4 linked regions of the Homo sapiens genome follow. The protein of the gene in region 1 purifies or fractionates together with the protein of each later gene. This does not show direct contact. Each region holds a gene or a part of one and is shown in the gene's direction. Other genes may lie near its edges. The genes, in order: CAPZA2, CNOT1, CRACD and WASHC5.

What was found.
Region 2: the proteins of CAPZA2 (region 1) and CNOT1 purify together in Homo sapiens (affinity purification with mass spectrometry; 5 studies listed by BioGRID and IntAct, with this or other methods). This does not show direct contact.
Region 3: the proteins of CAPZA2 (region 1) and CRACD purify together in Homo sapiens (affinity purification with mass spectrometry; 5 studies listed by BioGRID and IntAct, with this or other methods). This does not show direct contact.
Region 4: the proteins of CAPZA2 (region 1) and WASHC5 purify together in Homo sapiens (affinity purification with mass spectrometry; 5 studies listed by BioGRID and IntAct, with this or other methods). This does not show direct contact.

Annotation. Positions count from the first base shown.
Region 1 is NC_000007.14:116,914,582-116,921,607, forward strand, and holds part of CAPZA2 (F-actin-capping protein subunit alpha-2), read left to right. Parts: intron 1-1,478; coding exon 1,479-1,541; intron 1,542-3,145; coding exon 3,146-3,286; 3' UTR 3,287-7,026. UniProt on the Homo sapiens protein: F-actin-capping proteins bind in a Ca(2+)-independent manner to the fast growing ends of actin filaments (barbed end) thereby blocking the exchange of subunits at these ends.
Region 2 is NC_000016.10:58,542,810-58,549,835, reverse strand, and holds part of CNOT1 (CCR4-NOT transcription complex subunit 1), read left to right. Parts: coding exon 1-117; intron 118-1,202; exon of another isoform or gene 1,203-1,337; intron 1,338-2,153; coding exon 2,154-2,270; intron 2,271-2,539; coding exon 2,540-2,650; intron 2,651-3,086; coding exon 3,087-3,164; intron 3,165-3,337; coding exon 3,338-3,515; intron 3,516-4,344; coding exon 4,345-4,475; intron 4,476-5,932; coding exon 5,933-6,229; coding exon of another isoform or gene 6,230-6,451; exon of another isoform or gene 6,452-6,683; intron 6,684-7,026.
Region 3 is NC_000004.12:56,311,078-56,318,103, forward strand, and holds part of CRACD (capping protein-inhibiting regulator of actin dynamics), read left to right. Parts: intron 1-130; exon of another isoform or gene 131-531; intron 532-2,119; coding exon 2,120-2,302; intron 2,303-2,962; coding exon 2,963-5,612; intron 5,613-7,026. UniProt on the Homo sapiens protein: Involved in epithelial cell integrity by acting on the maintenance of the actin cytoskeleton. Positively regulates the actin polymerization, by inhibiting the interaction of actin-capping proteins with actin.
Region 4 is NC_000008.11:125,088,785-125,095,905, reverse strand, and holds the start of WASHC5 (WASH complex subunit 5), read left to right. Parts: upstream 1-4,113; 5' UTR 4,114-4,291; intron 4,292-4,508; exon of another isoform or gene 4,509-4,903; intron 4,904-7,121. UniProt on the Homo sapiens protein: Acts as a component of the WASH core complex that functions as a nucleation-promoting factor (NPF) at the surface of endosomes, where it recruits and activates the Arp2/3 complex to induce actin polymerization, playing a key role in the fission of tubules that serve as transport intermediates during endosome sorting.

The DNA of each region.
Region 1 (7,026 bases):
CTCTCTAGTAGCTGGGACTATAGGCGTGTGCCACCATGCCCAGCTAATTTATTTTTTGTAGAGATGGGGTCTCACCATATTGTCCAGGCTGGTCTCAAACCCTGGCCACAACCAACCTTTCTGCCTTGGCCTCCCAGAGTGCTGGGATTACAGGCATGGGCCACCACACCCAGCCCCTGAAGCTATCTTTTAAAAAAATTTTTACTAGCACTTAGGTGATTTCTGCTTTGACCTAATTGGTACTCTCCTTGCAAAATTTGCCAGTGAAAAAAACTTACTAATGTCTGATTTTCCATGAGATGTTCTCCATATAGTTACATATCATATGTAATTACTACATTCAATATTATTGACATAACAAGGGTATGGTGCCGTCTTGTTTGGGGAGTTTGACATTGAGCGAAGATGCTTCCTGGATGGGTGCGGTGGCTCACGTCTGTAATCCTATCATTTCGGGAAGCTGAGGTAGGTGGATCACTTGAGGTCAGGAGTGCGAGACCAGCCTGGCCAATATGACGAAACCTCGTCTCTACTAAAAATACAAAACCCCATCTCCACTAAAAATACAAAAATGAGACGGGAATGGTGGCACATTCCTATAGTTCCAGCTATTTGGGTGGCTGAGGCATGAAAATTGCTTGAACCTGGGAGGCGGAGATTACAGTGAGCCAAGATCACACTGCTGCACTCCAGCCTGTGCTACAGGCTGAGACCCTGTCTCAAAAAAAAAAAACAGATGCTTCCTAAGAGAAATTTGTCCACAAGAGTACAGAGGGTACGGTTTTGAGAGATGGTCATAGTAATTAAACTTGACTAATATGCCAGTTTGTGCTCGTTTTTTTAGGAATGACCATTTTTACTCTATCTTAGGAGGTTTTCATTGTTTTATATTTTTACACCATATATATAAAGTATAAGGTGTTAGAGACTTTTACATTAACACTGTTTTATTTTTTAAATCCAGATTCTGTTAACTTTACTGTTAGGAAAAAGCAAACAAACCCATCTATTGGCATGTTAAAAAAAAAATTTCCAGAAAAATACATTCTTCCTGATTAGTGATTTTTTTTTTTTTTTTGGTATCACTGTTCTGTTACGTAATGTTCAGTAAATATTTAACAATATTCAGATAAAGAGTCATCAATTAGAAATCTTTACCAAACTTCTTACCCATAAAGGTTGTCTATTGGAATGCATGTCCAGTGTTTAAAATTGAACTTTTCATCCATGTGTGTATCATTGAGATTTCACTTTCCTTAGCCAGCTGAACATTGAGACCAGCTTATTCTGTAGACTTTTAAAATAATTTTACCTATTTTCCCCTTAGACTTAGAATAATTGATCTTACAATATTTATTCTATGTCATAATTTCCTTCTGTGTTATTTATTATAACATTACATTAACCATACATATATTTTAAAATAATAGTGGTTTAGTTTTAAATTACTATTTTTATTTTGTTTTTTTTTTTTTCAGAATGAAGTGCAAACAGCAAAAGAATTTATAAAGATTGTAGAAGCTGCAGAAAATGAATACCAGGTATGATTTTTTAAATATTATATAAGCTACACTCACATATGAATTAATGTCACTGAAATTTTAATTTCAGCCAAAGGCTGAATTTTTCCATTGCATCAGTTAGAGTCTTTTTGTTGTGTGTCTGCTTTTAACACAAAGGCAGACTTACTAATGTGTAGGCAAAAAGAGTGGCAAGTAAATTGAATTCCATTAATAGTTTGTGTTTTCAAAATACTAAGACTAGGCCGAGCGCGGAGGCTCACGCCTGTAATCCCAACACTGGGAAGCCGAGGCAGGTGGATCACGAGGTCAAGAGATCAAGACCATCCTGGCCAACATGGTGAAACCCTGTCTCTACTAAAAATACAAAAATTAGCTGTGTGTGGTGGCATGTGCCTGTAGTGACGAGTGCTACTCGGGAGGCTGAGGCAGGACAATCGCTTGAACCTGAGAGGCAGAGGTTGCAGTGAGCTGAGATCACGCCACTGCACTCCAGCCTGGTGACAGAGCGAGACTCCGTCTCAAAAAAAAAAAAGACTAGGTTTTGGCCAACATAATTTCTGAGTGCAGATTGAGTATCTCTGATCTGAGTTGCTTGGAACCAGAAGTGTTTTAGATTTCAGATTTTTTTGGATTTTGGAATATTTGCATTATCTATTTACCAGTCAAGCTTCCATAATCTGAAAATTAGAAATCTGCATTAGTGCTTCAGTGAGCATTGCCTTTGAGTGTCATGTTGATGCTCAAAATGTTTCAAGCTTTGGAAACTGGATTTTTCAGTTAGGGATGCTCAACCTGTATCAGTCAAAATATGCCAGACTTTAAGTGGCTATTTTTTTTCTGGTTGGAAATTTTAATTCAGGCTGTGTCTTAGCATTTGGATTATGTGTAATCTGTTTAGATCACATTTCATTTTGTGCTTTACTTTTTATATTATTTATCAGCTTCTAAACTACACTCTTGAATTGAACCATTTAATTTGTGAATTGGACAAGTTTCTACTCCTTAAAAATAATAATCTATAAATTGTTCTGACATACTAAAATAAATTCAAAATGACACACAAATATTAAGTCTAATTTATAGTTTTATTTCATTAAGTTTATTCAAAATTATTATAGGCTTTTTCTTCTAGCTGCTTTTATTTTATTTATTTATTTATTTATTTTTGAAGACAGAGTCTTGCTCTGTGGCCCAGGCTGGAGTGCAGTGGCGCGATCTCGCCTCACTGCAAGCTCCGCCTTCCAGGTTCACGCCATTCTCCCACCTCAGCTTCCCGAGTAGCCGGGACTACAGACGCCCGCCACCATGCCCGACTAATTTTTTTTTGTATTTTTGGTAGAGACAGGGTTTCACTGTGTTAGCCAGGATGGTCTCGATCTCCTGACCTCGTGATCCGCCCACCTCAGCCTCCCAAAGTGCTGGGATTACAGGCGTGAGCCACCGCGCCCGGCTCTTCTAGCTGCTGTTAAACAGCTTTTAAAACAATGTTGGGATTTTATTTGACTGTTTAAAAACAGTGAAACAGGCTGCTTAAATAAAACTTATTCTGAAAACATCTATGTGCTTTATAAATTGTTCTGTTCTTTGCTTTACTTTAAACTTCTAACTATTGTTTTTCATAGACTGCCATCAGTGAGAATTATCAGACAATGTCGGACACTACTTTCAAAGCCTTACGTCGACAGTTGCCAGTTACACGCACTAAGATTGATTGGAACAAGATCCTTAGCTACAAGATTGGCAAAGAGATGCAGAATGCATAAGATGAACATTGCATGACCGGATCATTTTAGTGTCTTTGCGTTAAAAAATCATTGCAAAAGTATTCTGAACTGTCAAGCTGCCCAGTCAGATGGGCTGTTGCCATTTAAAATCACTGTAATTAATTAGTTTGATTAGAGCACAAAGCTTAGCTAATCAACCATTATTTTTCATTTTGTTTGTTCTAAGAGGATTGAAAATCAGTTTAGTTTAAATGTCTTTCTGTTAGGCCTTTCTTTCTTACAATGAAGAGATGATTCTTCTAGTTTATGGTTAAAAGTTTTTGAAGTGTCTCAAAAATATTTTACTAACTGTAACCCTAAAATTGATGTCTTTTGGTTTATGAAATCAGTAATTTTTGATATTTCCCCAGTTCTTTTTAATGGGGTCAATAATGGACATTCTAGTTTAAGGTGGTTGATGGATTTAGCCATATATGCTGCTAAAGAAATTGTCTACCTTTTCTTCCTCACCTGTTCCATTTATGTAAAGTTGAGATTAGAGGGAAAGCATTTTCTATATCAATTGTGTTTAAACCTTTCAAGAAGGTTATTTAGCTAGCTTAGTGTTGAACTAAATTTTTTTTAAACAAGGCAAGGTCTAATGCTGTTTTGAGATTCTGAAATTAATGAAAATACTTATTTCAGAAATGCATTTAATGCTTTTTTTCTTGTGACAGTTACGCAAATCAGCTTGAATTCCATATGTCCCTGAGTTATTTTTATCATAAAGCCACAAATGTATTATAACAAGGCAAATTGTAATATATATAATCCTGAACTCATGACCATGTCTCGGTTTATTTTTTTTTTCTTGGATTGAAAAGTACTGAAATTCAATGTGACATTAAAATGCAAATTTTCCTATTTATTTGAGTAGAAAATCACTTACCAGTGAGCATATATATTTTAAAATACTTTCTTTGGATATTGTAATTCTTAACTGGTTGTAAATTAGAAAAGCTGGGATTACATATGGTGTGCGGTTACAGTCTAAATTTTTTCATCCTCCTATGCATCATAAGCATGTTTGTAATATTTTCAAAAATAGTTCTACTGATGCTACAGGAATTTCAAGCCTGTGGTGAATGTTAGTATTTACCATAGGGAGTGAAGTGGAGTTATGGTTTCATTCAATAGAGTATTGCTGATTATACTTGAGTGGAATCCTTTCCTCACGTACTCCCACAGACGTCTGGGCCTGGAAATTTTTTTTTTATTTTATTTTATTGTTTTTTTTTTTAGAAAAACACCACTTTTATTATGTACAATAAAATATTTCATTAGCTTGAATTGTATAGATTTTTAAAAATTCAATGAAAGCATGTTGTTTAATTTCTTTTTAAAATCACTGTTGGGCTTTGAAAGCATTGAGAATATAATATGAAATTATGACATTTTGTCTAAATCATCTTTTCTTTAGTTTTAAAATACAAGTTTTGGCACATTGGGATTCCTAAAGAAAATGAATTGGTAACATTAATTATCTGTTCCTTTTTAAAATATATATATTTGAAAGTTTGATGATGGTGAACTAAATACTAGATCTAATTGACAAGCTTAGTTGTATCAGTTAGGCCATCATGAGTTTCTATCCCATGAAAGTCATCAATTTCCTATCTCTGTTCTAGTCTGGAATGCATTACTGAAAATGTATGCAACTGTTTTTAAGGTGATTTGCTTGTGAGACGGAAGATTTATCAAAAATAATTTAGAACAGGCTGGGCGCGGTGGCTCACATCTGTAATCCCAGCACTTTGGGAGGCCGAGGCGGGTGGATCACGGGGTCAGGAGATTGAGACCACCCTGACTAACACAGTGAAACCCTGTCTCTACTAAAAATACAAAAAATTAGCCGGGTGTGGTGACAGGCGCTTGTAGTCCCAGCTACTCGGGAGGCTGAGGCAGGAGAATGGCGTGAACCCGGGAGGCGGAGCTCGCAGTGAGCCGAGATCGCGCCACTGCACTCCAGCCTGGGTGACAGAGCAAGACTCTGTCTCAAAAAATAATAATAATAATAATAATAATATAATTTAGAACAGTCTGAAATAATGATGGCACAGAATAGTCTTTTATAGTATAAGAATGGCATTTATTAGGCAGGGCACAGTGGCTCACACCTGTAATCCCAGCACTTTGGGAGGCCGAGGCGGGTGGATCACGAGGTCAGGAGTTCGAGACCAGCCTGACCAACATGCTGAAACCCCGTCTCTACTAAAAACAAAAAAAAATTAGCCGGGGATGGTGATGCGCGCCTGTAATCCCAACTACTCAGGAGGCTGAGACAGGAGAATCATTTGAACCCGGGAGGTGGAGGTTGCAGTGAGCAGAGATCGAGCCACTGTACTCCAGCCTGGGTGACACAGGGAGCCTCTGTCTCAAAATAATAATAATAATAAAAGAATGGCATTTATTAAAGTGAAAGAAGAATGGAAACCCAGAGTATCCTATAGCTCAGGGATGTAATTTTAGTAGGAGACATTATGGCTGCTTTGCTGAGTAGGCTGAAGTGTGGTGGCAAAGGCATAATCAGGGAGAACAGCTAGGAGACTACTGCAGTAATCTAGTTGAGAGAGCATGCTGGCTTGGACTGAGGTGGTTGCTGTAGAGGTGGTATAAAGCAGTGAGGTCTAGGTATATCCTAAAGGTAAAATCAGCAAGACCTGGGGAGAGTTTGGTCATGGAGTGTGAGATAAAGAGAACCATGTCTGGGGCTGGAGAAATTGAGGAAGATTCTTGTAGGAGCAAGTTGGTTTGGAGAAGAAGGCTGGTCAGGAGCTCAGTTTTCTATTCAAAGGAGAAATATCTCATGTAGCAGTTAGATACAGGAGACAGGAACTAGAGGAAAGCTCTGGGCTAGAAGAATGGGAAAGTGCATGAACCTGGAAACAATTTTATAGGCAGACAGGATGAAGGACCTCAAGGTTAGTGATAATGAATTTAAAGTAAATGAGACCAATGATGAGCATGGCTGTATGTTTTTCTTCAACCGTGTAAAGCTGTTTGGGTGCAGGCATAGAGTAGATGAAATAAATTTCACCAGGGCTGTGGTTTTGCCCAGAGTGAATGACCACATGAAGAGGGGCAGGGTATGATGATGGTCTGTGGAATTTCAGCTGGGTAAGCAGGGAAGTGAGGGCTTGAGACGGGGGGAGGGATAGTGAAAATGTACAACCAGTGGATTATAGGTGTGTTAAAGTAGGGGAACTAGAAAGAATGACCTGGAAATGTAAGAAGTGGGCCGGGCGCAGTGGCTCATGCCTGTAATCCCAGCACTTTAGGAGGCTGAGGTGGGTGGATCATGAGGTCCAGAGATCAAGACCATCCTGGCCAATATGGTGCAACCCCATCTCTACTAAAAATACAAAAATTAGCTGGGCGTGGTGGTGTGCCTGTAGTCCCAGCTACTAGGGAGGCTGAGGCAGGAGAATCGCTTGAACCCAGGATGCGAAGGTTGCAGTGAGCCGAGATTGTGCCACTGCACTCCAGGCTGGCGACAGAGCGAGACTCTGTCCCAAAAAAAAAAAAAAGTGGTGGGCTGGCCACGATGGCTCACGCCTATAATCCCAGCACTTTGGGAGGCCACGGCAAGTGGATCATTTAAGGTCAGGAGTTCAAGACCAGTCTGGCTAATATGATGAAACCCCTTCTGTATTAAAAATACAAATATTAGCCGGGCATGGTGGCACATGCCTGTAGTCCCAGCTACTCAGGAGGCTGAGGCAGGAGAATCTTTGAACCCA
Region 2 (7,026 bases), on another chromosome or scaffold:
ATGAAGAGAGTCAGTATTGAGCCAAACTTTCATAGCCTGTATTCAAACTTCCTTGACACGCTGAAGAATCCTGAATTTAACAAGATGGTTCTGAATGAGACCTACAGAAACATTAAAGTAAGAGTTGGTTCTTATATTTCCTTTAATTATTGCTTTGAATTTGGAAATATTTGATTATATAGGTAGGATTTTTGCTATTTTTCCATATATATTGTCAATATTAGGTACCTCTGGAAATTGCTGTAGATTTTGTTTCTTATATGGAACTAAATTTTATGCAGAACTTAAATTTATAGGCATACCCTGTGCCTTTTCTTTGAAAGTAACCACTATTATGAATTGTTTTTGTCATGCCATGCATGATTTTAGAACTTTACCACTGTTATACATAAGCAGCATAGTATTGGTTAGCATATTCTGTATGGTGTCGCCCTCTGTACATCCTTTTCTTTTTTTTTCACTTACTTTTTTTTCTCCCCTGGATATTATTCATGATAATGATAATGCTCTTTGCTGTAGCCCCCTTTTTTTTTTTTTTTCAATTTTTTTGAGATGTGGTCTCACTCTGTTGCTTAGGCTGGAGTGCAGTGGCACGATCTCGGCTCACTGCAGCCTCCACCTCCCAGGTTCAAGCAGTTCTCTTACTTCAGCCTCCCGAGTAGCTGGGATTATAGTTGTACCGCCATGCCCAGCTAATTTTTATATTTTTAGTAGAGACGGGGTTTAATCATATTGGCCAGGCTGGTCCCGAACTCCTGACCTTAGGTGATCCACCCTCCTCGGCCTCCCAGAGTTCTGGGATTACAGGCCTGAGCCACTGTGCCCGGCCAGTCCTCTTTTTTAAAAAACAGAAAAATATAGTCTTGTAGAAAACCATTGTATGTATTTGTATTGCTGCTGGGCATTTGTGTTGTTAATCACTTAAACTATTATAAACAATGCTGTCCTGAATGTTTTCGTTTGTATCTTGTAGTATTCAAGTGCAAGATATCTTTAGACTCTAAATCTGTTTGTGGAATAGCTGTTGTCTAGGAGTCTGTGCAGTTTAAGGTCAAATTCTACTGAGCTGAGGCTTATTCAACAAAATTCAAGTATTTTAATTTCTAAACCATCATTTATTTCTTAGGAGGAAAAACTTCTAGAACCAGCATACAGCTGTGGTCATTCTTTGCTCAATAACTTGGGTCATTGGCTTAGGAACCAGCACTATATTTAAACCTGTGGATGGGAATATTCCCCATTCTTGGTTACGCTGTAGTGCAAAAGAATTCCTGGCTCTCTGTTGCACAGCTGACTTGTGCCATTCTGCTGTTGCTGTATAGAGTTAAGGAACATGGCTCTATTTCGTTTTTATTATCTGATAGCAAGGGTGGTTGGGATACATAAAAGTTTCCACATACTCTGTAGCAAAGTTTCAAGACCATGTTTTTTAAACAGAAGTTTAAATATAGCCCTAAGTCAAGAGGTACCACAGAGTAGATGGGTATATACATGTGTGCATACCTGCAGCCAAAACACTCTCCTATGTTAGTTCTGCCCCCCCTTAGAAAAACAGTAACCGGAGAATCAGTTAAATGGTTTGGGTTTTTTAGAAATTTGAAAAGAAGTATATAAACAGTATTATACTATATCTCAGAAAGTTATCTTGGTTGGCTGCAGAGATTTGTTAATGACCTGGGTATACTGAAGATTGCAATAGGAGGCTAATTTGATTATATTCCTTTGTATGCTTGCTGCCTTTAAGGACTTAAGCATGGCTATCATCCTCATTTAAATTAATTTAGCACTTCAAAATAGCTTTGTAGTTAGGTCTCTGCTTTAAACCTAGCTAAGGTTTTCAGAGTTGAAAATACTTTTCTAGGGGAGGATAGCTGGCACATAACTTTGTGTTCTTTTTGAATTTTGTGCAATGTGTTTGTACCTATTTTGAAAAAATAAAATGTAAAGACTTCTTCAAGGTAAAAATAGCACTGTTGAATCATAAACACAGCAAAATGATATTGAGAATGATATACAGAGTAATTCTACTTTGGGGCCTGTTCTTAGAAATGATGACTTGTCTTTAGGATAGGATAATGGAATTCTCAAATACTTAGTTGAGTTTTCTTTCATAAGCTTATTCTCATATCTTTCTTAATCTTACACTATTTCAGGTGCTCCTGACCTCTGATAAAGCTGCAGCCAATTTCTCAGATCGTTCTTTGCTGAAGAACTTGGGACATTGGCTAGGAATGATCACATTAGCTAAAAACAAACCCATCTTACACACTGTGAGTTTCATCTAAATGTGTAAAAATTGAGAATCTTCAGCACATTATGATTACAAGTATTGGCTGTTTGGAGCTATTTAATGATTATTGGGGTTTTGTAAGATTTTGGCCCACGTTTTGAGTTGTTAACCCCTTTTTGTAAGGCAAGGACTAGACATTATGTTGATTCCTGTTTTGGGGATAAGCTTGGCAAAATACTTTTCTTTGGTTTTGTTATACCATTTTGGGGGGTATATTCCCCGCTTTTGAAAGTATTTTTCTTATTCTAGGACTTGGATGTGAAATCATTGCTGCTAGAGGCTTATGTTAAAGGACAACAAGAATTGCTCTATGTAGTGCCCTTTGTTGCCAAAGTCTTAGAATCTAGCATTCGTAGTGTGGTGAGTAGATTTTAATATTTTATTTATGACTAATTTCTAAGCATTGCTTTGTTTTAGCATGAGGTCAAGAGATTATATTCTTAGTTCTTGTGAGGTAAAGCTAGTTAAGTCTGTTTTCCTCTATGGCACTTGGATTTCCAATTTGAGAGGCTGGGTGAAATAAGAAAGATTATAATGGTTGGCTTTGGTTTTTGGTTTTTTGTTTTGTTTTGTTTTTGAAATGTGATATAGGTGAGAAGGCTAGGGGTTTTGTTATGGCTACAGAGGTATAAGTGTTTAACTATGTTTAACTGTTTTTGGTTATTTTTTAATCCTTGTTTTTTGTTTTTTATTTGTTTGACTCCCCCCTACCCCCTTATGTTGTATTGAATTGTTTTAAATAATCCAAATTAAAGGGCACATTTTGGGCCAGCTTAACATAATAGCTTTTCTTTAGGTTTTTAGGCCACCAAACCCTTGGACAATGGCAATTATGAATGTATTAGCTGAGCTACATCAGGAGCATGACTTAAAGGTAATTTACTGCTTCCTTGTCCTCTGGAACATTCTTTGCCTTCACATTATTAAAACTTACAGTGAAGGCAGGGTATTTCGGGGGAAGTACTATAATAACTGAAAGTAGAGTATATTATGAGTAAAACTAAAGTTTTCTTTTAAAAATTCTAATCCAACTCTGGAACTGTGCAGTTAAACTTGAAGTTTGAAATCGAGGTTCTCTGCAAGAACCTTGCATTAGACATCAATGAGCTAAAACCTGGAAACCTCCTAAAGGATAAAGATCGCCTGAAGAATTTAGATGAGCAACTCTCTGCTCCAAAGAAAGATGTCAAGCAGCCAGAAGAACTCCCTCCCATCACAACCACAAGTAAGTGTGCTAATTAGTCAAGGAAGGCTTCTGTTAGCTAGGATACTATCTTAAATGGTACTTGTCCATGTATATCGCAAACTATAATTTCCCACATAATGTAGTGGTGAAACTTTGTATACGTTTTGGTGAGCCTTCTAATTATCAAGCAGAAGTAATGACTAGGCCTTGTGTTACCATCTTAGATTCCATCCTGACAGTTCATGCATATTATTAACTAAATGTGATTTAATCAGTTGCCTCTCATACCCCAGCTAGGCCAGGTTATCTCCTTTGTTGTGTGAAGTCCCAGAAATAACTGCATACTATGATGGCCTGTTAACCCCTCAAATCTGGGTATGGCCAGACCTGCTAGATCTGCCAAGGGAATGGGACTGTTTTATCTACATGAAGAAGATGGGAGAAGGGTATGGGAGTGTTGAATGATTGGGAGTTGTGGTTAGAATAAATTGAGCTTTTCTTTCTTTCTCAGTCCTCAGCAGCTGAGAATCCCCAGATAAACCTAGGAACAGGCTAGGTTGAAAACATACATTTATAATATAGACTAAGTTTATAGGACTTGGGCCTGACAATATGGCATGGCTGCTCAGTTGATTTCTGTGCTGTGGGGCACTGGCACTGACATAGTTTAACATACTTCGTGTATATCTCTGTTATAACAACAGAATTTCCCTTTCAGGGTGGGAAAAATAGGACCTGCTACATCCTTCCCTCCTCTCCCAATTTAATTCGTTTAATTAGATAATGACCACTTAATGATATTAAGCTAATTTTATAATAAAGTCAACAAATGTACTTTTTAAATCTCTTTTTATTACTTGACATTTAGCAACTTCTACTACACCAGCTACCAACACCACTTGTACAGCCACGGTTCCACCACAGCCACAGTACAGCTACCACGACATCAATGTCTATTCCCTTGCGGGCTTGGCACCACACATTACTCTGAATCCAACAGTAAGTAAACACTGCTCCATTCTCCCAGCTTCTAGTTTGTGATAAGGTAAATTTTGTTTGGCCACCTTTTCTTCAGCTCTTTGCCCTTCCCTCTGGATTCCTAGGTTGTAGAGTTTGTCAGAGAGGATGGAGATCTAGAACTGCTGTGTAGTTCAGTTGGGATTGTTCTTCTTCCCTTAAGAGATAGAGTGACTAGATGTTAGTTATATTGGTTCCTCATATCCAAACCCATGATACTAAAATTTAGCTAGCAATAAAATCACAATCTCCAGGAATTCCTTACACAGAGTAAAAGATGCTTAATGTATATCATAGCTTTTTATTTTCTTTATCTTGTCACTTTAGCCTTCTGCAGTAAGCCATTTCTTCCACCTGAAGGCTGGAAATGAGCTGATTGTGGGTGTGTATACAATTTCTAGGCTAAGATCTTGAAGTAGGACTTAGCACTTTGAGTTATGTTGTTGTGGCCTGGTTCCAGAAGGAGGTCTGATACAATATGGTCATGTAAGATGACCTCTGATCAGTCCTTTTTCCTATAGTTAGTATTTGCTTTGTACATTCAAGGGGACATTTTATTGTTATCTTTAGTCTTTTATTCTACTTAACAGAATATATAATACAGAATCAGGTGAGTGGAGTTTTCATTGTCCTTACTTTTTAGAAACTGAAAATGTTCACAAATACAAGAGTAACATTAATACATTGAACTTTTTATTAAAAGGAATTGAAAGGGTATCAGAGAAATCATTTTATCCTTGTCCCCCCATCCCCACTCCTATAGACATGGTACTTAGTTTTAGAGGGGTGGAGTGAGAGGCAGTGGGACACCTAGATCCAGAAATTGTGATTCATCTTTAGAATACTCTTAGTGTTGTGAACACTATTATATGCTAGTTTAATTTTTTTTTTTTTTAATTCAACAAGTTAAAGGGACCAAGTAAGTTTTGGGGCATAATTTACACCTGCAATAAAAGATTAGAAACAGCCTTTCAAATGAAGCCAAATACTTCAGTGGGCACTGTAAAATGCTCACTATTCTGATGAATTAATTTTAATAGTTTTTGTAAGAAGTCTTTTTTCTATAAACTTTATTCTTTTTACATTTTCCCAAGCTAGTGGAGAAGTTGCTTTCTTTTAAGAGCACTTGAGCCACAAATTTTAAATAAGCCAGCAGTGTGTCTTTAAGTAGTTAATGCATATTGTAATGAACAGTTTGTCCATTAAACTTGGATTTAAAAAAAAGACATATCTATTATTGTGTATCACAGGGTATACTGAATACATTTCCCTGTATGGAGCTCAGTTTCTGTTACCCGAATTTTCCATTGGTTAACTTTAAGTAGAAACTGGTAGTTTTTGGTTAATCTTGATTTACAAAATCATGAATGTGATTGCCAGTAGGAATTGGATTGTCTTATTTAAACAAGGTGTTGACTTTGTCCTCCCCAACCCCCCAGATTCCCTTGTTTCAGGCCCATCCACAGTTGAAGCAGTGTGTGCGTCAGGCAATTGAACGGGCTGTCCAGGAGCTGGTCCATCCTGTGGTGGATCGATCAATTAAGATTGCCATGACTACTTGTGAGCAAATAGTCAGGAAGGATTTTGCCCTGGATTCGGAGGAATCTCGAATGCGAATAGCAGCTCATCACATGATGCGTAACTTGACAGCTGGAATGGCTATGATTACATGCAGGGAACCTTTGCTCATGAGCATATCTACCAACTTAAAAAACAGTTTTGCCTCAGCCCTTCGTGTAAGTTGGCTATTTCCTTGGTATAGGTACAAAACGTATTACTGCTTGTCTGTAATAATTTTTTTCTTTGTCTATATATGGCACTGGGCGTTACCACTTATTCTTAATAATCACCATATTTGTTTGATGTCTTCCATCATTTTAGATTGTAATTCTGTGAGGCAAAGCATCATGTCTGTGTGTTTTTTTTTTTTTCTGTTATATTCTCAACACGATGTTTGACAGATAGTAGATACCCAAATATTTGTTGGTTTAAATAAATTAAGATTTAAAAAGGAAATGTGATATCTGACAATCTCATTTCTGTTAACCAGGAAGGATGAAAGCTGTTTGAGAAGGCCGATACAAAATGACTTAAAGTGATGTTGCATGTGCACACACTTTTCAAATAATTCACTTACTAGTTTTGAGTCTCAGATATCATGGTTAATAATTCAGGTATCATGATTAATAATTTGTTTACTGCTTTAATGATTTTTTTTGGTTGTTTTTTGCCTTTTTTTTAATGTTTCATGAGACAGGGTCTCACTCTGTAGCTTAGGCTAGAGTACAGTGGTGCAGTCTTGGCTCACTGCATCCTCCACCTCTGAGGTTCAACTGATTCTCGTGCTTCAGCCTCCCAAGTAGCTGGGATTACAGGCATGTGCTACCACGCCCCACTAATTTATGTATTTTTTTAGTAGAGAAGTGGCTTCACCATGTTGGCTAGGCTGGTCTCAAACTCCTGGCCTCAAGTGATCTACCTGCCTTGGCCTCCCAAAGTGCTGGGATTAGAGGTGTGAGCCACCGCGTCTGGC
Region 3 (7,026 bases), on another chromosome or scaffold:
ACGAGTCCTCTTATATTTAGAGAGGCAAAACAAAAACAAAACAAAAAAGCACTTTAGCATTTCTCTACTTTTATGTTGTTTTTTAAACTTTTCTGTGTCCTTTTTTTTAAACCTGGGACTTTACCTGCAGGAGTGTAAGAACCCTGTGGACTCTTCTCCCCGGGCACCTCTTCTGTAGGAGCCGATCTGCCCCATTGAGGACCTTTCATCTGCACAAGGGGCCAGGCATTCTCCCAAGGCCTGGCAGACAGTATAGGAAGCAGGATCTGCTCCTGAAGAAGGGGATGGCTCAAGACAGTGCTGCCGCCCAGACAATGAGGAAGCCAGCTGGGATAGCTAGAAACAAAGCACAGCACTTAAATCTCAGCATCAAGTGCTTATCTATGTCTTCAATCTGTCACATTTGGCTCCGACTCCTTTTTCTCATGCATCTATTAGGGGATGGAAACAAATGTTTCATTCAGCAATAGCTTAGAATCTCATGCCCATTATAAAGATAACCATAAATAAATGAAAGCTAGAAGGCCAAAACTTGATTTTTCTGTGCTTCTTGTCATAAATTAATATATACTGAGCATCCATTTTGCTTTTAGAGCTAGCTGCTTGGTCTTTCATCTTTTGTGCATATAGAAGATAATTGCAAAAAGCAAGCCCATCTGCTAAACCTCACCACTCCATGCCTACAGCAGAAACAAACAAATAAACCCTGGCCACATCGGAGCTGCTGGCATAGTGCCGCACCCCCTGCCACACTCTAGCAGGAGCCCTTTGCTTGCTGCCAGCCTGTGAATTCTCTGTAGGTACAGGCGTGGTGTCCTACCTTCTAATTCAGTGTGGCCTGTGGGTTCGGGCTGTGTCACGATCTCTCTGATCTTTCCAAATCTACCCTTCATCTGAGGTTGTGTTTTTTTTTAGTGATTGCATCTGTATTCTAGAGCTGCAGGCCATTCCACAATTCATCCTTTGAAGGACCGCACTTGTCCCGGTGGCAGATTTTTGCCGCTCATTTTTCTCATCAGGTCCCTCTTCCTTTTATCTTCTCAGTGCAGTCAGTACCCTGAGACTTCTTTGGAGCGATTGTACCAAAACTTTTGTGTGTGTGTGACAGAGTCTTGCTTTGTGGGCTAGGCTAGAGTGCAGCCTAGCGATCTCAGCTCACTGCAACCTCCGCATCCTGGGTTCAAGCAATTCTCATGCATCAGCTTCCCCAGCTGGGATTACAGGTGTGCACCACCACACCCGGCTAATTTATTTTTAAAGTATTTAGTAGAGATGGGGTTTTGCCATGTTGGCCAGACTGGTCTCGAACTCCTGGCCTCAAGTGATCTGCCCGCTTCAGCCTCCCAGAGTGCTGGGATTACAGGTGTGAGCCATCGCACCCAGCCATACCAAAACATTTTTGTCGATCAGGAATTTCGTGTTCCAGGTATAGATGCTATACTTTATTTTCCTTTATTCCTTCAACAGATATTTATTGAGCACTGACCAAATGAGGTTTGCTACGTGGGTGTAAAGGGTACCCATACAAAGATGAAAAAAGACACACTCCCAGCCTCAAAGGGACTAAGTCCTGTGTAGGAGCTGAGGCATATATGCAGTGTCTGAGAGTTTAACAGTTCTTAGCACAGAGGTGATCTAGGCCAGGGGTCAGCAAACTACTCATTATTTTAGGCTTTGTGACATGAAGCTACAAGTACTCTCCTTTGTGCCACTCTTCCTTCATAGCACAAAAAGCAACCAAAGACAATGGGTGTAGCTGTGGCCCGGTAAAACTCTGATTCTCCAAAACAGGCTGTGGGCAGGATTTGGCCTCCTGGCTATGTTTTGCTAATCTTGGAGCTACTCTGAACCTCATATTAGTCAAAGTAGGAAAATTAGTTCCTAAAAGTTATATGACTTTTACAAGTTAATACCAGTGGACGCTGGCAGAACAAATAGTCAATGTCCTTTGGTTCCAAAACGGGTGTTCATTTCATTTTCTGAGGAGTTCCCTCTGCTCACCTGCATTCCCTGGGCCAGGCTGGGCGAGGCGCACACTGGAACGAGTGCCACCGTTCTGCGATTCCCTGCAGGTTGTCTTCTGATCCCAACTGACTTTCTATTTTAATCTCCCCTACAGGTTGCTCCCGTTAAACCGTCTCGGCCAAAAAGGCACTTCTCTTCTGCTGGCACCATCGAAAGTGTCAACTTAGATGCCATCCCCCTGGCCATCGCTCGCCTGGACAACAGTGCCGCCAAGCACAAGCTGGCTGTTAAGCCAAAAAAACAGAGGGTGTCAAAGAAGCACAGGCGCCTTGCCCAGGTGTGTAGAGCCTGCACGGGCTGACCAGGCAGGTGCCCTTGCCTACTGGGCACTAATTCTACAAGTGGGTTGGCATTGGGGTGGAGCCATGTAAAGACCTGAGAGTCTCCCCATCGGGAACTTGAGTGTGTGGCGGTGTTGGGGAATACACAGGCCTGTTTACTTTCCTCGCCCTTTCTGGCATGAGGCTGGTGGACCTCAGAGGGAGCGGTTGCCTTTTGAGGGGCTCCAGACCCGTTGTGTTTGCTTTGCAGTGGAAAAGTGGTTTAGCCAATGCTCCCTCAGTTTGACTAGGATAGGCTTCCAAGTCACAAGCTCCAGGGGACATTAATGAAGTCCAAGTCTCTTTTTGCTCATCTAATGCTTGAATATTGGTTTTCCTCGTTTGTTCATATTAAGGAAAGGAATTAGGGAATGACAAATAAAGGAGCTGGTGGGGAGGGGGGCGCGGAAACAGAATACACGTCCTTTTCTCCATTCGCACGACAGAGTCTTGCGTGGGGTGACCGATGCCTGAGTTTAGCTATCCCTGAACTTGAGAATACCTGCTTCCAGGTGTTCTTGAGAAATTAAGAGGGTCGCTGGCACTGTGAATAGGAAAAGGAACGACTGTGGGTGGAGAAAGCAAAAGGCTAATTGTGTTTTCCTTTCCAATGTTAGGATCCACAACATGAGCAAGGCGGCCTTGAGAGTCGGCCCTGCCTGGACCAGAACGGACACCCAGGCGAGGACAAGCCAACGTGGCACGAAGAGGAACCCAATCCGCTGGATTCCGAGGAAGAGAGAAGACGCCAAGAAGACTACTGGCGAGAACTGGAGGCCAAGTGCAAGCGGCAAAAGGCGGAAGCAGCCGAGAAGAGACGCCTAGAGGAGCAGAGGCTGCAGGCGCTGGAGAGGAGGCTTTGGGAAGAGAACAGAAGGCAGGAGCTCTTGGAGGAGGAGGGCGAGGGGCAGGAGCCGCCTCTAGAGGCGGAAAGGGCGCCGCGGGAAGAGCAGCAGCGGAGCCTGGAAGCGCCAGGTTGGGAGGACGCGGAGCGGAGGGAGCGTGAGGAGCGCGAGCGCCTGGAGGCGGAGGAGGAGCGAAGGCGTCTGCAGGCCCAGGCCCAAGCGGAGGAGAGGCGGCGGCTGGAGGAGGACGCCAGGCTGGAGGAGCGGAGGCGGCAGGAGGAGGAGGAAGGAAGATGCGCGGAGGAGCTCAAAAGGCAGGAGGAGGAGGAGGCTGAGGGATGGGAAGAGCTGGAACAGCAGGAGGCGGAGGTGCAGGGGCCGCCCGAGGCGTTGGAGGAGACTGGGGAGGGCCGGCGGGGCGCGGAGGAGGAGGATCTGGGGGAAGAGGAGGAGGAGGGCCAGGCGCACCTGGAGGACTGGAGGGGGCAGCTCAGTGAGCTTCTGAACGACTTTGAGGAGAGGCTCGAAGACCAGGAACGCCTGAAACCCGAAGGACAAAGAGAACACTCCGAGGAGCCAGGTATTTGCGAGGAGCAGAACCCAGAGGCCGAGCGGCGAAGAGAGCAGCAGGGAAGGAGCGGGGATTTCCAGGGGGCCGATCGTCCTGGGCCCGAGGAAAAGAGAGAAGAAGGGGACACGGAGCCTCTCCTGAAACAAGAGGGGCCGGTGGAAGCCGCGCAGCCTCCGGTGGAGAGGAAAGAAGCCGCCGCCCTTGAACAAGGCCGCAAGGTGGAGGAGCTGCGGTGGCAGGAGGTGGACGAGAGACAGACCATGCCCCGGCCCTACACGTTCCAGGTGTCCTCCGGAGGGAAGCAGATTCTCTTTCCCAAAGTCAACCTGAGCCCCGTGACGCCCGCAAAGGACACGGGGCTCACCGCTGCTCCCCAGGAACCAAAGGCCCCCAAAGCCAGCCCAGTCCAGCACGCCCTACCGTCGTCCCTGAGCGTTCCCCACACCGCCATTCTGGTCACGGGCGCGCAGCTCTGTGGCCCGGCAGTCAACCTGAGCCAGATCAAGGACACCGCGTGCAAGTCCCTCCTGGGCTTGGAGGAGAAGAAGCACGCGGAAGCCCCAGCTGGGGAGAACCCTCCCCGAGGCCCCGGCGACGCGAGGGCGGGCAGCGGGAAGGCTAAGCCCCGCCAGGAGTCTCCCAGCAGCGCGTCCGCACTCGCAGAATGGGCTTCCATTCGGTCCAGAATCCTGAAGAACGCAGAGAGTGACCCGCGCAGCAGCGAGAGGGACCAGTTGAGGCCCGGTGATGAGTCCACTCCCAGGGGCCGGTGTGATTCCCGCGGGAACCAACGGAAGACTCCGCCAGTCAATGCAAAGTTCTCTATTATGCCTGCCTGGCAGAAATTTTCCGATGGTGGCACGGAGACCTCCAAACAGAGCACGGAAGCTGAAAGCATACGAAAAAGACCCATGCTGGGACCCAGCGAAGAGACAGCCCCCCAGCCTCCTCCTGCTGGTGTTCGCGAGCTCGGGAAGGGTCCGGAGAAGTCGGAGATGCACCGGGAGCCCGCAGACACCACCGAGGGATGCAAATTTGCCAAAGACCTCCCGTCTTTCCTTGTCCCAAGCCTTCCTTACCCTCCGCAGAAAGTGGTGGCCCACACAGAGTTCACGACCTCGTCGGACAGCGAGACTGCAAACGGGATAGCAAAGCCAGACCCTGTGATGCCAGGTGGAGAGGAAAAAGCCTCACCGTTTGGAATAAAATTGAGAAGGACCAACTATTCCTTGCGCTTCAACTGCGACCAACAGGCAGAACAGAAGAAGAAGAAGAGGCACAGCAGCACCGGAGACAGCGCGGATGCAGGGCCGCCTGCAGCGGGGAGCGCTCGTGGAGAGAAAGAGATGGAGGGTGTGGCCCTCAAGCATGGTCCATCCCTCCCCCAAGAGCGGAAGCAAGCCCCTTCCACCCGGAGGGACTCCGCTGAACCTTCCAGCAGCCGCTCTGTTCCTGTGGCCCACCCTGGGCCTCCACCGGCCAGCAGCCAGACCCCGGCTCCGGAGCACGACAAGGCAGCAAACAAAATGCCACTGGCACAAAAGCCAGCACTGGCTCCCAAGCCCACCAGTCAGACCCCACCAGCATCCCCACTTTCCAAACTGAGCAGGCCCTACTTGGTAGAGCTGCTGTCTCGCCGAGCGGGGAGGCCGGACCCAGAGCCAAGTGAGCCGTCCAAGGAGGACCAGGAGAGCAGTGACCGCCGGCCACCCTCGCCCCCAGGCCCCGAGGAAAGGAAGGGACAGAAGAGGGACGAGGAGGAAGAGGCGACAGAGAGGAAACCTGCTTCCCCACCTCTGCCTGCCACTCAGCAAGAGAAACCTTCTCAAACACCCGAGGCCGGGAGGAAAGGTAGGTAGCTGCAGGGTGGGTAACTGCTGCCAGCCGAGGTGTCAGAGCCAGGGCATCAAGAAGAGATCCACACGCAGGTTCATGAGAATAATTTACCAACAATACAGATTTGAAAAAGGAAAGTTTTATTAGAACGCTGCAGAACAAAACCGTGGGGCGCCTCAGTGAGAGGACTGAGTGCCCTGGTGGATTTTCCTTAGGAGCATTTATGGACCTTAAGTCGAGAGCTTAAGGGTAATTGGAAGGGTAATTTGGGCCACATTAGCCACGTAGGTCGTGATAAATGATTACATTTGTGGACATTTTGGTGCCTTAATGTCAGCAAGGGTTGCAAAATGAGTTTTGCCATGACATTCCAGAGATGTCTAGAAATTCTAGTTATAAAAGTTGAAAAGCCTGGAACCAGATGCCTATGTTAGATACTAGGGAAGTTTAATTCTGAATTCCCCAGATAAGGAGTTTTGCCTCTGGATGGTCTGTTTGATGGTCACCAGGTGGTCCTTGCGCTCCTTGTCTGCCTCTGTCCAGCTCATTGACTACGTCACTGCTAGAACCAGAAGTGCCCAACGCCAGAGGCAGCCAGTGGAGCTGGTGTTGGGCACACCTTCATTAATTAGAGGCTGGTGTGGGATTCCCGAAAGACACTCACTCGTGATTCATAGTAAGCCTTGTTACTTCTCATTCTTTCAAATTTGGGAAATGCTGACCAACTCTGCAGTGTGTCTGCAGTTCACTCTTGATAATGATACTTATTTACACAAGCGATAAAAGGTGCCAACAGTTAGATGAATGCCTTTTCGGTTGGCAATAGAAATTGAAATAATAATCCCAACGACTGAAGATGTCATTAACCATTTTGAGGGGGCCTCGCAGTGATGATAAAACTGGAGTGTCCCCTACCAGTGTCTTCACTGTATCTCTGGGCAGTAGTGGCACCATGATGGCAGTTTAGGGGACTTTAGGTGTCTCCATCAGACCTATGGATCCTCTCTATGGGATAATTGACTGTCTCCATTTTATGTAAAATGCTCTGCAAATGCAGCTTGGGTCCCTCCATCCCCCCACCCACCCCCTACCCTCACCCAGCTCACCACTGCAGAGCCCTCCTACAAAGAAATTTTGGAGCAAGCCTTACCTCTGGCTGACCCTGATGTTTCTTCAGATTAAATGTTTGGGCCAACAAAGCTGTCAGTTGGATTAGCTTTTGTGCCCCCAGAGAACCTTCATCTAATACTTTTTCTTTTCTATTATGCAGAGTATAGGAGGTAAAGTATGGGTCAAAGCCAAAAGTTACTCACATTTCCCAGAGAAATTGTCCCCTGAGGTTTTCTTAGGAGGGATTGTTTTCTCCTTTGTTCAAGTATTTAGATTTGGGGCAGTTTTTGCAGAGGAATGATTTGTTTCCTGAGGAGTG
Region 4 (7,121 bases), on another chromosome or scaffold:
TTTCTTTTTTTTTTTTTTTTTTTGAGATGGAGTTTTGCTCTTGTCCCTCAGGCTGGAGTGCAGTGGCACTACCTTGGCTCACTGCAACCTACGCCTCCCAGGTTCATGCAATTCTCTTGCCTCAGCCTCCCCAGTAGCTGGGAGCTACATGCCAGGCTAATTTTTGTATTTTTAGTAGAGACGGGGTTTCACTATGTTTGCCAGGCTGGTCTCAAACTCCTGACCTCAAGTGATCCACCGGCCTCGGCCTCCCAAAGTGCTAGGATTACAGGCGTGAGCCACTGCCCCTGGCCTCGGTTTTCTTTTTGTTTTTGAGACAGGGTCTTGTTCTGTCACCCAGGCTGGAGTGCAGTGACATGATCATGCTCGCTACAGCCTCAACCTCCCAGGCTCATGTGATTCTCCCACATTAGCCTCTCAAGTAGCTGGGACCACAGGCGCGCGCCACCACTTGGCCAATTTTTCTTTTTTAATTTTTAGTAGAGACGACCATCTCCCTGTGTTGCCCAAGCTGGTCTCAAACTCCTGAGCTCAAGTGATCCTCCCAACTCGGCCTCTCAAGTGCTGGGATTATAGGCATGAGACACCATGATCAGCAGAAGTATTCTGTTTTCTACTCAGTCTTGATTCTAGTGTAAGTCTAAATTGTCCAGAGCAGCATTGTCCAATAGAACTTTCTGTGATGAAAACGTTCTATAATCTGCACTGTCCAATATGATAGGCACTAGGCACATGTGTACTGATTATCTAAAACCTGGCTGGAAAGGTGGCTCATGCCTATAATCCCAGCACTTTGGGAGGCCAATGTGGGAGGTTGGCTTGAGCCCAGGAGTTCGAGACCAGCCCAGGCAATAAAGTGAGACTCTGTCTTTACAGAAAATAAAAAATTAGCTGGATGTGGTGGTGCGGGCCTGCAGCCCCAGCTCCTCAGGAGGAGATGTGGTAGGATCGCTTGAGCCGGGAGGTTGAGGTTGCAGTAAGCCATGATCACGCCACTGCACTCCAGCCTGGGCAACAGAGCGAGACCCTCTTTTCTCAAAAAAAAGAGAAAAGAAAAGAAAAGGAAGAGACGCCAGGGACTGCTCTCTCTCTCTCTCCCTACCATGTGAAGACACATAAAAAGGGCAGCCATCTACAAGCCAAGAAGAAAGTCCTCACCAGAATCCAACTATGCTGGCAACCTCACCTTGAACTTCTGGCCTCCAGAACTGTAAGAAATAAATTTCTGTTGTTTAAGCCACCCAGTCTATGGTATTTTGTTATGGTAGCTTGAACAAAGACACAGTATCTATGAAGATTAATGCAATCCAGTATAAATGGAAAGTATCTACCAAACAGTAGCTGTCACTATTTGTTTGAATGCAAAACTCACATTACTTTAGTGAAACTTCACTTTTGCAGAGGACCAAGGAAAACACGATCATGCTCTTCTGTAATTCTGGAGTAGGGAAAAGATTAAGACTGAGATTGAATTGAAAAGCAAAGGCAATGGATGGTGCAGAAAGATGGAACAGACATACTTTTCTCAATCTCTCCCAATAAATACAGCTAAGTACAAGTCAAAGACAACTCCTTTCTCTGACTCTAACAGCACCTTCTTTGATATAATTATAATTATAGTCACTCCACTTTGTTAGTGACTATCTTGCAAGATGTTAGCAGTGCTTCACAAACAGCAAGTGCTCTGAAAATAGTCAATAAATGAATAAATTAACTGTCTGCTTCAGTCAGATTCATAGCTCTCCTGTTTCCTTCTCCCCTTCATACCCAATATTCTTAATCTCAGCTCCAGACTTTGTTCAGGCTGGGTGTGGTGGCTCATGCCTATAATCCCAGCACTTTGAAAGGGCAAGGCAGGAAGATTGCTTGAGGCCAGGAGTTTAAGACCAGCCTGGGCAACACAGCAAGACCCCAACTCTACAAAAAAAAAAAAAATTTAAACTTACACAGACATAGTGGCTTGCACCTATTGTCCTAGACCCTCGGAAGGCTGAGGTGGGAGGACTCCTTGGGTCCAGGAGTCCAAGGCTGCAGTGAGCTATGATCATGCTACTGCATTCTAGCCTGGACGATAAGAGTGAGACGCTGTCACCAAAAAGGAAAAAGAGGACTTTTCCTCATCCTGCTCCCACCATGAGAAAACCTTCTCTTCAGTTTTCTTTCTATTTATTTATTTATTTTTTGAGACAGAGTTTCGCTCTGTCGCCCAAACTGGAGTGCAGTGGCATGATCTCGGCTCACCTCAACCTCTGCTTCCTGGGTTCAAGGGATTCTCCTGCCTCAGCCTCCCGAGTAGCTGGGATTACAGGTGTGTGCCAGGACACACCAATTATGTTATTTATTTACTTATTTATTTATTTATTTATTTATTGTATTTTTAGTAGAGAGAGGGTTTCGCTATGTTGACCAGGCTGGTCTCAAACACCCGACCTCAAGTGATCCGCCCGCCTTGGCCTCCCAAAGTGCTGGGATTACAGGCATAAGCCACTGTGCCAGGGCCTCTCTTCAGTTTTCTATCTGCCCACATCTTACCCATATGCTAAAGTCTGAATGTTTGTGTCACCCAAAATGTATATGTTGAAATCCTAACTTCCAAGGTGATGGTATTAGGAGGTGGGGCCTCTTGGGAGGTGATGAGGCCCACTTTCATGAATAAGATTAGTGCCCTTTTAAAAGATGCTCCAGATAGCTGCTTTGCCATTCCACCATGTGAGGACACAGCAAGAAGCCACCTATGAACCAGGAAACAGGCCCCGGAACTGTGAGAAATAAATTTCTGTTGTTCATAAGCTACCTAGTTTATGGCATTTCCGTTACAGAAGCCCACATTGACTAAGATACCATCTTTCATGGCTTGGTTTAAGTGGTTCTCAACCAAGAAGGATTTTACCCCTCTCGCAAGGGGACATTTAGCAGTATCTGTAGACTTTGTGGTTGGCATCTAGCGGGCAGAGGCCAGGGATGCTCTTAAGCATCCTACAAAACACAGGACAGCCCTCACCCTGACCCCACAGCAAAAAATTATCTGGCCTAAAATGTCAATAGTGCATCAGTTGAGAATAACTGGTTTAAATCAATCTCTCTTGGATCCCTCCCCAGGTAATAACACTGATCTTTTTCTTCCCGGTACCTATGATCTCCAAGAAAGTTTAGAACAAGTTGTGCATTTCCTGAGTTTTTTCTCTGCATGTTATTTATAGACAATATGTTGACTTCCTTTAAATCCATGGGAGCCTTGTACAAGTCAGCCAGAGCTGCCTCTCCTTTTTCAACATGCAAGGATAATCCCTTCTCTCTGAATCCTTCTCATACAATTGCTTTTCCCTCCCTCATGCTACCATTATCCCTATCACATGCACATGTACACAACACACTCCTATTATGAAACTCATCACAACTATTTGCTCACATGTCTGCAGCTTCTTTAAACTGACACCTCCTTAAACTAGAACCCTGACATATTCTATTGCATATAAAGCAATTCCTCACACAAAATAGGGGACCAATAAAGATTTGGCCAGTTACAAAAATAACAACAGACATCATCATTTCTCGGTCACCTACAGAATGCCATAAACTGGTGTCCCGGCACTTTATTCTCCTTATCGCTAATTCTCACTGCAATCTACATAACTGAAGAGGAAATTGAGGTCCAGAGAGTTTATTCAAACGACCTTCCCGTGGCCTTACTTTTAAAGTCAGTTCAAACAAAATCTATTTGGATCAAAAATTCGTAATCTTGCCCCTACACACTTGAGGCGAAAGGATGGAGAGATGGCGTCTCGGACAGGAGGGTAAACTGTCCCAGACTCACTACCGTGGCGTGAAAAGTTCCACAACCATAATCCGGGTAGACGGACCCCCGGCTCGGAGTCCCCGTGGAGTGTCCCTGAGGGTGGCGAAACTCCTGCCACCCTCCCCATTGCCGTCCCCCGCTTCTTCCCTACCTGGTAGTCCAAGCTGTCTCCGTCTGGTGGCACCCCAATTTCCCCTGCCTAGACCCACCTCCTTTCCTCAGCCCCCTTCGCCTGCCGCTGAAAAGTGAGAGCGGGCTCTTGCGTCATCAGCCGTCGCCGGCGAGTGGTCACATGATGCCCCTCCCTGCTCCCAGCCGCTTCGGTCATGTGACCGCCTGGGGAGTCAGGGGCGGAAGTCGGGGTCTGACCCGCTCCAGGTCCGGGACTGCGGATAGAAGAGGACCGCCGCCTTGAGGGAGGGGTGGAAACTGGGTGCCGGCTCCGCGCGCGACCTCCGGCCCTGCGCGTGCGCCGTGGCGCGGCCCGGCTGACAGGTGAGTGGGGATGGAGTGAGCGCGCCCCATTTTTGCATGGCCCCCTTCCCCTCCCCGCTGGGCCGCGCTGGCCACGGGGAGGTCTGCAGAGTCGCGTGCAGCCTGGATGGGGGACTCGGGATGGAGGGCTTAGGGGCTTTCTGGGGCGGGGGCTGTAATCCAGCTCTTCGTCTCCGCTTAGGGGGAAATCATTTTGCACACCCCTTCCTCGCTTTAGGAAGCACCGTTCAGCTGCTTGGTCCGAATCTCATCCTTCCAAGTTTCCGGGAACACTGCTGTATGGATGTCGTCGTTATTTCTCTTTGCTTTTGAGAAAACTGAAAGGCTAGTAGTGAGGACTTTTACAGGCTGACAGACGTGGATTTGCATTCTAGTTATGCCATGGGCTGTGAGTTTGGGCAAGTCATTGCTGCTCGCCGCGCCTTAATGCCTTCACCTGTGACATACTGATGTCAAAATCCTTTGCATTTGGGGGAAAAAAAAAAAGTTCCCAGGGCCCTGATTCCTGGGATCGGAATCAGGATTATGATCGGACAGGAGAAAGAAAAAAAGTCACAGAGCCATAAAACTGGGTCTCCTGATTGCAAGCGCATGGAGCTCCCTCAAACATAGGTGAGGCGTAGTGAGGGCGAAGTTTTACTGTCTTTGTGCACTACAAGGGACACCTTCTCTAATTGTCCTTCACCTGCCTTTCCCAGGATTTCAGGTTCAGCCTCATTTCAGAACTTTTCTGGAAAATATATGCAGCTTGCATTTATCTTGATCAGCAACCGTTATATTTTGTTTGTGATAATGGATTTGTGGAGACCAGTGCTTCCTTTATGGAACTGAGGTTTTGCGAAAGGCTAAAAATAGACCTGCCTTCTTTTGTCCTCTGAAGAGGGTAAACTGTTTGTCCACGACAATTCGATTTCCTTAAGAAATATTATTCTGTACTCAGGGTAATTGGTGTAAGGATGTCATGCCTTATTCTTGAAAGCATGTCTTTTGATTAGGATTACTTCCCAAACTGAAAATCACAGTTCCACGCCAAATTATTAAAAATGAAGTTACCGGCACTTGTAAAAGAAAATAAGAAAATATAGTGGGATCTCTGGATTTCATGCCAATAATAATATAGCCTGTATTGAGAAAACTGATCTTCAAGTGTTCTTGATCCCTAGCACCAAGAGAACCTCTGAAAGGATAATTTAACATAGCTTCTTCTACAGTGTTTATTTGGACCTAATTCTAAAGTGGTTTTTTAAGACTTAGCTGAGTCTTAACACTTTGTAAAGCCATCCACCTACCTCTTAGCTGCAACTTGATTAGGCATTTTTAATGATGGTTCTTAGATTCTGTTCTTCAGGACTAGTCCTTCAGCCAACGAGGGGGCTATTTACCAAATACTCTAGCCAAATTATATTTGTACAAATTATGGAAATTCCATTTGTTACATGGAAAATATAACTAGTCCGGGTTAGGAGGTCTAGTACATAAAATGTAACTAAGTGATTTCCTTCTTTCAGCTAATCTTGTTTTAACTTCTTCCATCTTCAAAAACTTAGCAGGAGATGCTTGCATTATTAGAAATAGAAAACACAAGTGCCCTTCATGGGGCAAAACAGATTACAAGCAGTGAGTTCATTTCAGTAAAAGTATATTAAATATAACTCATATGCTTTTGCATTAAAAATTTAATATAAAGTTTATATATAGAATTTTAGAAAGGTGATTTACCTAGGTAATAAAGACCCATAATATTTGTTTTACTATTGCCGAACATATTTGGTTATTATTATCCTCCTCATGTTCTTTTAAAGTTGTCTACAGCGTAATTCTTGAGTAAGGGACTAAGGATTAAAACAAGAGATTGACACACGAAAGTCTTGATCTCTGTCGTTATCCCAGACTGAAGCTTCCCCGAATGTGTGCATGCAGGTGCTGAGTCTGTCTGTCCTTCTGTATGTTGGGAGAGAGTAGAGTAAAGGGCAAGTAATGTTACTTTGCTTTAAGTTGTTTTTCCCAGGGCCACATTGTTGCCCTGTCATGGTATCCCAAATCGGGTAGCCATTGGACCTGTTAATCATAGCTTGTCCTCCTCTTCATGAGTCTAGAGCAAGCTTGTGTAGCCTGAGGCCTGCAGGCCACATGCGGCCCAGAATGGCTTTGAATGTGCCCCAATACAAATTTGTAAACTTGCTTAAAACATTATGAGATTTTTTTGCGATTTTTTTTAAGGTCATCAGCTATTTTTGGTGTTAGTGTATTTTATGTGTGGCTCAAGACAATTCTTCTTCCAATATTGCCCAGGGAAGCCAAAAGATTGGACACTCCTGGTGTAAAGTTTCATCCTACTTAGACCTTCTGGGTTAGTTTGGTGGTCTTCAGAGGGCTTTAGTATGTGACTGTTTTGCCCACTGTCCATTATTTCCCCTTTCCCTCTCTGCTTTCCCAAGCCAGACCATATCCATGCAGAAAATGAAATGAAATTATCTGAAATTCAGCCTGTTAGAGATCAGTGTGGTTTAACAAGCAAGTATCACAGAGGAAACTAAAAGAACTTGTTAATAATGTATGCCTTAATGTGTATTACAGGGTACCTTCATGGGAGTTCTAGACAGCTGTAGTGGCTTCTTGGCTCTCAGATCCAATCCAGTCTACTTCTTCTGTTTCCGCCCCTAGCTGACTCTGCTCCAGCCACTTTAGCCACCTTGCTAGCCATCTAGCACATTCCTGCCCTGGGGCCTTTGCACTTACTTGTAACCTCTGCTTGGGATGCCATTATTAGGATCATTATCTATTGCTGCATAATAAACTATGCCAGAACCCAGTGGCTTAAGACAATAAG